Homo sapiens: one gene and its partner. The protein of the gene in region 1 purifies or fractionates together with the protein of each later gene. This does not show direct contact. Each region holds a gene or a part of one and is shown in the gene's direction. Other genes may lie near its edges.

The links.
Region 2: the proteins of GTF2IRD2 (region 1) and UBE2Z purify together in Homo sapiens (affinity purification with mass spectrometry; one large-scale study listed by BioGRID and IntAct). This does not show direct contact.

What each region holds. Positions count from the first base shown.
Region 1 is NC_000007.14:74,841,377-74,845,400, reverse strand, and holds part of GTF2IRD2 (general transcription factor II-I repeat domain-containing protein 2A), read left to right. Parts: intron 1-4,024.
Region 2 is NC_000017.11:48,911,407-48,914,906, forward strand, and holds part of UBE2Z (ubiquitin-conjugating enzyme E2 Z), read left to right. Parts: intron 1-1,427; coding exon 1,428-1,615; intron 1,616-3,500. UniProt on the Homo sapiens protein: Catalyzes the covalent attachment of ubiquitin to other proteins. Specific substrate for UBA6, not charged with ubiquitin by UBE1. May be involved in apoptosis regulation.

The sequences.
Region 1 (4,024 bases):
GAAGATCATCCGAGCCCAGGGAGGCAGAGGCTGCAGTGAGCTGTGATTGCACCACTGCATTCCAGCCTGGGTGACGGAGTGAGACCCTGCCTCAAAAAAATGATAATAATTATTATGAAACACTTGTTTTTTAAATGATTACTGGTAGCATAGTTGACGCCAACTGATAGTATCTTTTTTTGAATTCCACGTGGTATCATCCTGCCTATTATTTTATTCTTCGGTTTTTTCAATTTTTTTATTTCTATTTTTGTTTGTGTTTTTATTTTTATTTTCTTTTTTGTAAAAAAGCAGACTTTTGACATCAGAGCTTGTTTAGGGATTATTGTGGTATAATATTCTGGGGATGACAGAACTGTTTTATACCTTAATTTTACCTATGTAACTTTATATATGTCAGAATTCACAGGGGCCAGGCAGGTGACTGACACCTGTAATCCCAACACTTTGGGAGGCCAAGGTGGCAGATCACCTGAGGTCAGGAGTTTGAGACCAGCCTGGGCAACATGGTGAAACCTCCTATTAAAAAAAAAAAAATGCAGAAAATGAGCTGGGCATGATGGCACGTGCCTGTGGTCCCAGCTACTCAGGAGGCTGAGGCACGAGGATTGCTTGAGCCCGGGATGGGGAAGTTGCAGTGAGCTGAGAGTGCACCACTGCACTCCAGCCTGGGTGACAGAGTGAGACCTTGTCTCAAAAAAGAAAAAAAAAAAAATCGGCCAGGCACGGTGGCTAACGCCTGTGATCCCAGCACTTTGGGAGGCTGAGGCGGGTGGATCAGGAGGTCAAGAGATCGAGACCAGCCTGGCCAACATGGCAAAATCCCATCTCTACTAAAAATACAAAAATTAGTTGGGCGTGGTGGCGGGCGCCTGTAGTCCCAACTACTCAGGAGGCTGAGGCAGGATAGTCGCTTGACCAGGGAGGTGGAGATTGTAGTGAGCTGAGATCACGCCATTGCACTCCAGCCTGGGCAACAGAGCGAGACTCCGTCTCAAAATAAATAAATAAATAAATAAATAAATAAATAAATAAATAAAAAAAACATAATCCTCATCTAGTCTAGTTTACATCAGGTAAAAGAATTTTCGGCCAGGCGTGGTAGATCATGCCTGTAAACCCAGCACTTTGGGAGGCTGAGGCAGGTGGATCACCTGAGGTCAGGGGTTCAAGACCAGCCTGACCAATATGGGGAAACCTCGTCTCTACTAAAAGTACAAAAATTCGCTGGGCATGCCAGGAGTGGTGGCTCACGCCTGTAATCCCAGCACTTTGGGTGACCAAGGCGGGTGGATCACAAGGTCAGGATATTAAGACCATCCTGGCTAACACGGTGAAACCCTGTCTCTACTAAAAATACAAAGAATTAGCTGGGCATGGTGGCACGGGCCTGTAGTCCCAGCTACTCAGGAGGCTGAGGCAGCAGAATCGCTTGAACCCGGGAGGCAGAGGTTGCAGTGAGCCAAGATCAAGCCACTGCACTCCAGCCTGGGCAGCAAGAGCAAAACTCTGTCTCAAAAAAAAAAAAAGAAGAATTTTTATTTAAAACTTTTTTTTTTATTTCACAGGAAATGGATTGCATGATTGTTTTGACCATTTTTCTTCATGCTAAATAAAGTATGCAGACTTAAGCATTGAGTTAAGAGATCGGTGTTTTGATTGCCTTTTGGTCGGCGTCAGGGAGAGACCTCTCTGAGTTTGGAGGTTGTTTTAAGGACGTGGGGTGCCATGATTCTAGTAATTTTGTGTGTGCATTTCACACACAACAACCCATACATAAATATCTTATAATTCATCTTCCAGGCACTTGAGAATGAAGGGAGCATTGTTAATAATTTCACTGGCAGGGTGGGTGTGGACTAGGACTGTCCCACCTGGGACATGTGGGTCACCCATCTTATTTTCCCCTCATGGGGCCTTTCTTCTGTTTGCCTTTCTGCTCCTCCACTGCGGTTGCAGCCTCTGCCATTCCTTAAACCATCTGCACACCCACCAGCAGGCTCCCATGCTCTCTGTGTCCTTTCACGGAAAATAATATTTCCCTTGGAGGGTGTGTAGGTTTTAAATTGGGTGATCGTAAAAGCATCGGCGCATAGAGTGTAGTTCAGTACATGTTAATTTTCTTTTTTTCCATCCAACCTCTCTTTGATTTTATTTGATTTTTAAAAATCTCTTTAGCTGGGCGCGGTGGCTCACGCCTGTCACCCACCACTTTGGGAGGCCAAGGAGGCCAGATCACTTGAGGTCAGGAGTTTGAGACTGGCCTGGCCAACGTGATGAAACCCTGTGTCTACTAAAAATACAAAAATTAGCCAGGCATGTTGACCCAAGCCTGTAATCTCAGCTACTTGGGAGGCTGAGGCAGGAGAATTGCTTGAACCCGGGAGGCGGAGGTTGCAGTGAGCTGAGATCGTGCCACTGCATTCCAGCCTGGGCCACAGAGTGAGACTCCGTCTCAAAAACAAATAAATAAATATGATAAAAACTGTTTTATTGAGATACAATTCATATACTTATACAGTTCACCCATTTGAAGTGTACAGTTCAGGCTGTACACGGAGGCTCATGCCTGTAATCCCAACACTCTGGGAGGCTGAGGTGGAAGGATCGTTTGAGCCCAGGAGTTTGAGACCAGCGTGGGCAACATAGTGAGACCTCTTTACAAAAATAGAAAATTAGCTGAGTGTCGTGGCACATGCCTGTCATCTTAGCTACTCTGGAGGCTGAGGCAGGAGCATTGCTTGAGCCCAGGAGGTCAAGGCTACAGTGATTGCACCACTGTACTCCAACTATGATCATGGCACTGCACGTCAGCCTGGGTGACAGAATGAGACCCTGTCAGAAAAAATAAATAAAAATTTAAAAAATAGGGGTGGGCATAGTGCCTCACACCTATAATCCCAGCACTTTGGGAGGCCAAGGAGGGTGGATCACCTGAGGTCAGGAGTTCAAGACCAGCCTGGACAACATGGCAAAACCCCATCTCTACTACAAATACAAAAAATTAGCTGGGCATGGTGGTGCACGCCTGTAATCCTAGCTACTCAGGAGGCTGAGGCAGGAGAATCGCTTGAACCCAGAAGGCAGAGGTTGCAGTGAACTGTGATTGTGCCACTGCACTCCAGCCTGGGAGACAGAGCAAGACCCCATCTCAAAAAAAAAAAAAAAAGAAAATTAAAAAAAATAAAGTGTACTGTTCAGTGGTTTCTTGAAATAGATTCACAGAGTTGTACAACTATCATCACAGTCAATTTTTGTTTTGTTTTGTTTTTTTTGTGAGACGGAGTCTCACTCTGTTGCCCAGGCTGGAGTGCAGTGGTGGGATCTCGGCTCACTGCAACCTCCGCCTCCCGGGTTCAAGAGATTCTCCTGCCTCAGCCTCCCGAGTAGCTGGGACTACAGGCGTGCGCCACCATGCCCGGCTAATTTTTGTATTTTTAGTAGAGACAAAGTTTCACCAAGTTGGCCAGGATGGTCTCGATCTCTTGACCTCGTGATCCGTCCGCCTCGGCCTCCCAAAGTGCTGGGATTACAGGCGTGAGCCACTGTGCCCGGCCATCACAGTCAATTTTTGAACATTTTCATCACTCTGAAACCTTTTACCCTTTAGCTATCAACCTGAAATAACCACTAATCTATTTTCAGTTCCTATAGATTTCCCTATTCTAGAAATTTAATATGAATGGAATTACATAATATGTGACTCCTTTGGATTTTAAGTTGAGGGGATTCATAAAAGGTCAGAAGTGAAACATTCATAGGAAGTAGTTGATTGAGCCAGGTGTAGTGGCTTGCAGCTGTAATCCCAGTGTGGATGAGGGGGAAGGATGGCTTGAGTCCAGGAGTTGGAGGCTGCAGGGAGCCATGATCAAGCCACTGCACTCCAGCCTGGGTGACATTGTGAGACTCTGACTCTTAGAAATAAAAAAGCTGACCAGGCTCAGTGGCTCATGGCTGTAATCACAGGGCTTCGGGAGGCCAAGGCAGGTAGATCACTTGAGGTCGGGAGTTCGAGACCAGCCTG
Region 2 (3,500 bases), on another chromosome or scaffold:
CCTCCTCTCAGAGAGAAAGCTTAATACATAATGTCACATTTCTCTGGCATAGATACCTAGGTTTCTCTGTCACTGAATGCTCTACCCACAGAAGTGCAGTTGCACTTAAACTGATGTTAGAAAGAAATCATATTTCCTAAACCTAATGCTGTTTAAGTGAAACACATAGTTTTCTTACAGTAAATTTCTTACAGTAAAAATTCAGATTTTGTATTGTTGGTGTATCTTTTTTTGTTGTTTTGAATAGATTTCCCTTCATATTTTTTTTTTATGTAGTTAGAAATGTTTTTCCTAGGACATCTCGTCCTCAGTCAAGTACCAGTGTTAATAGCCTAGTACCTGGGGTCCCAGAGTTGATGCCATGTTGAGACCAGTTGAGTTTACTATTCCAAATGACTGAGAGCCAGAATATGACGTAGGGTCTTGCCAGGAGGGCAAGGTGGGAACTATAGACTTAGGCATTGGATTGCCACGTCCCTTTCCTTTTGCTGTTCAAATGCTTAGCAGACCTAAATGCCTAGGAGCCTTTGTGGAAGAAGAAATATAACTGAGTCAGTTCAGGTTTTCCTCCCTTCAGGGGGGGAAATCCTGTTGAAGAATTATGGCTTGAGGGGGAAGAGAATTTAGTGTCGTTTTCAGGACGGCTGATTTTTTTTTTTTTTTTTTTTTTAAACAGTATTGGGGAAAGTTCTGGGACTGGTCTAATGGCTCTGAGTGGACCCTGAGTCTTCCCCATTTTCAGTCATGATGTGCTGCCTGAGCCACATCCTCCACAATAGGTTTGATCCTCTGCAGAGGAAGCAAGCAGATACCCTAGGCATCCATCACACCCCCTAACCCTGCTGTGTTACTGGCACTGGGCTGTGGCCTCCAATCCCTTTCTTCGTCTCCTTTCATCATACTTTCCCTTCGTGCCACATAAATGTAGGGTGGGGTTGCATCATATGCATGTTTGGCCTGGGCAAATCCAAACATATATTCAGTCAAAATCTGTGTCGATTTCTCAAAATTAAAAACGCTAGGGTTATATTTTATAGATAAGCATATTATATTTTTCCACAGTGGTGTTTTATCCATTATATGTAACACTGATCAGGGAGGTCTGCACAAAAAAAAAAAATGCTTTAAGAGAGTTTTAGGGGATACTCAAGAGTGATTTTGACTAGATTCAGTTTTCGCCTTGGGCTCTAACTTTAGAAGTAACCCCTGAGTAAGATGTCATTCCACTGTAATGAGATTTCTTAAAATTCCAAACCTACGTATTAGTATGAGTGAATACAGGATGTTCCTTCTGCATGGTGAGGATATAGAACATGTGTACCAGATTATGGACTCTGCTTCTGGTGTGGGTAGTAGGTGGAGGGTAGCCAGGAGGGCTTGGGGTGGGTCATCACCTCACAATTTTGAGATGGGGTTTTATTTTGCAGATTCATGCATTGATCACAGGCCCATTTGACACTCCTTATGAAGGGGGTTTCTTCCTGTTCGTGTTTCGGTGTCCGCCCGACTATCCCATCCACCCACCTCGGGTCAAACTGATGACAACGGGCAATAACACAGTGAGGTTTAACCCCAACTTCTACCGCAATGGGAAAGTCTGCTTGAGTATTCTAGGGTAAGAGGAGACTTTTAAGTAGCCAAGTCGGTTGTTAGCAGATAATTACTCTAGGTCAGCCTTTATCAACCGGAGTCCCTCATCTGAACTACAGAACACAGAAAATGATTGAGTGACTCTTCTCAAATCTCCTCAGGATGGTATGTGACTAGTATCATTCTAGATGCAGAGGGGAGAAGTTAATTTATTACAGTGGTAACCTTTGAGAAGTGGTTCTCTTAAGAGTGTGGCCCTGAGCATCTGGGAACTTGTAGCCGAGCAGTTTCTGGGGCCCTATCTTAGACCTACAAAAGAAACTCTGGGGTTGGGGCCAAAAATCTGGTTTTTTTGGTTGTTGTTTTTTGTTTGTTTTGAGACGGAGTCTTGCTCTGTCGCCAGGCTGGAGTGCAGTGGCACGATCTTGGCTCACTGCAACCTCTGCCTCCCAGATTCAAGCGATTCTCCTGCCTCAGTCTCCCAAGTAGCTGGGGCTACAGGCGTGCACCACCACACCTAGCTAATTTTTGTATCTTTAGTAGAGACGGAGTTTCACCATGTTGGCCAGGATGGTCTCGATCTCTTGACCTCATCATCCACTCACCTTGGCCTCCCAAAGTGCTGGGATTAGAGGCATGAGCCACCGTGCCCGGCCCAGAAATCTGTTTTTTACAAGCTCTCCAGATGATTGTGGTGCATACTGCAGTTTCAGAACCACTCTCTTGGGGTGTTAAGGCCTTATTTTCTCTCCTGAACAGGTTGAGAAAGGCTGCAGGTCTGTGCCATTCAAGATTTGGGGTGTCTTAATTTGAGTCTTGCAATAAGTTGCTTTGAAGGCAGTGGCGGTGGTGGTGGTGGTGATCATTATGGTTTCATTTTTGTTTTGTTTTGTTTGTTTTTGTTTTGTTTTGTTTTGTTGGTAGAGGCAGGTATCTCACTATGTTGCCCAGGCTGGTCTTGAATTCTTGTCCTCAAGCAGTCGTCCTCTTGTGGCTCCCAAAGCACTGGGGTTACAGGCATGAGCCTCCATGCCTGACCTGATTATAATATTTTAATAATGACAAATGTCTGAGATTGGAAATCACATTAGATATGAAATGAGTTTCTAGTGCATCTTCTTTCTGGATGCTTCTGAGGTTTTGCTTCATAGAGTTCCCATTTTAGTTGCCTTTGGGGGCTGAAAACTCAGTGTGGACATCTTCTCGCATATTTTGGATTGGTGTTTTTATAGTGGTCTGAACTTCTCTGGGACAGAGAACACGTGCAGGTTGAAGTTGAGAAAGTACCCCCAAACTGATTATTCTGTTTTCCTGCTATCCAACATGTTTCCAGGTTTGTGTGAGGGAAGAGCAGCATTTGAAATAAACTTAGAGACATGATTCATTTTTCTAGGACTTGCTCAGACCCAGGGATATGTTCTGCTGTGATTTTGGCAGTGAAGAAGTCTTTTAAAGGAGGTTGTCCTTAAAGAAGTACTTCATCTCGTTAGGGTACTTAATTAATTGTCTTTGCTGGTAGGCTAAAACCCATGATGATAAAGAAATTTAGTCGTTGCTTCTGTATGAAATTTGTTCGCGAAAGCGTGTCTCAAAGTAGGCTCTCCCTCATTGGGTCAATATAAAACTCTTTTGAGATACCAGCCACAGGACAGTGGGGTAAAAGTAGTAGAAGTGTGTTAGGTAGAAAAGGAGAAGCTGCCCTGAAATTGAAAATTTGCCATAAAGAATCACAGAGTAGAAAATTTCAGCCGGGTGCGGTGGCTCACACCTGTAATCCCAGCACTTTGGGAGGCCGAGGCGGGTGGATCACCTGAGGTCAGGAGTTCGAGACCAGCCTAGCCTGGCGAAACCCCGTCTCTACTAAAAATACAAAAATTAGCCAGGCATGGTGGCGCATGCCTCTAGTCCCA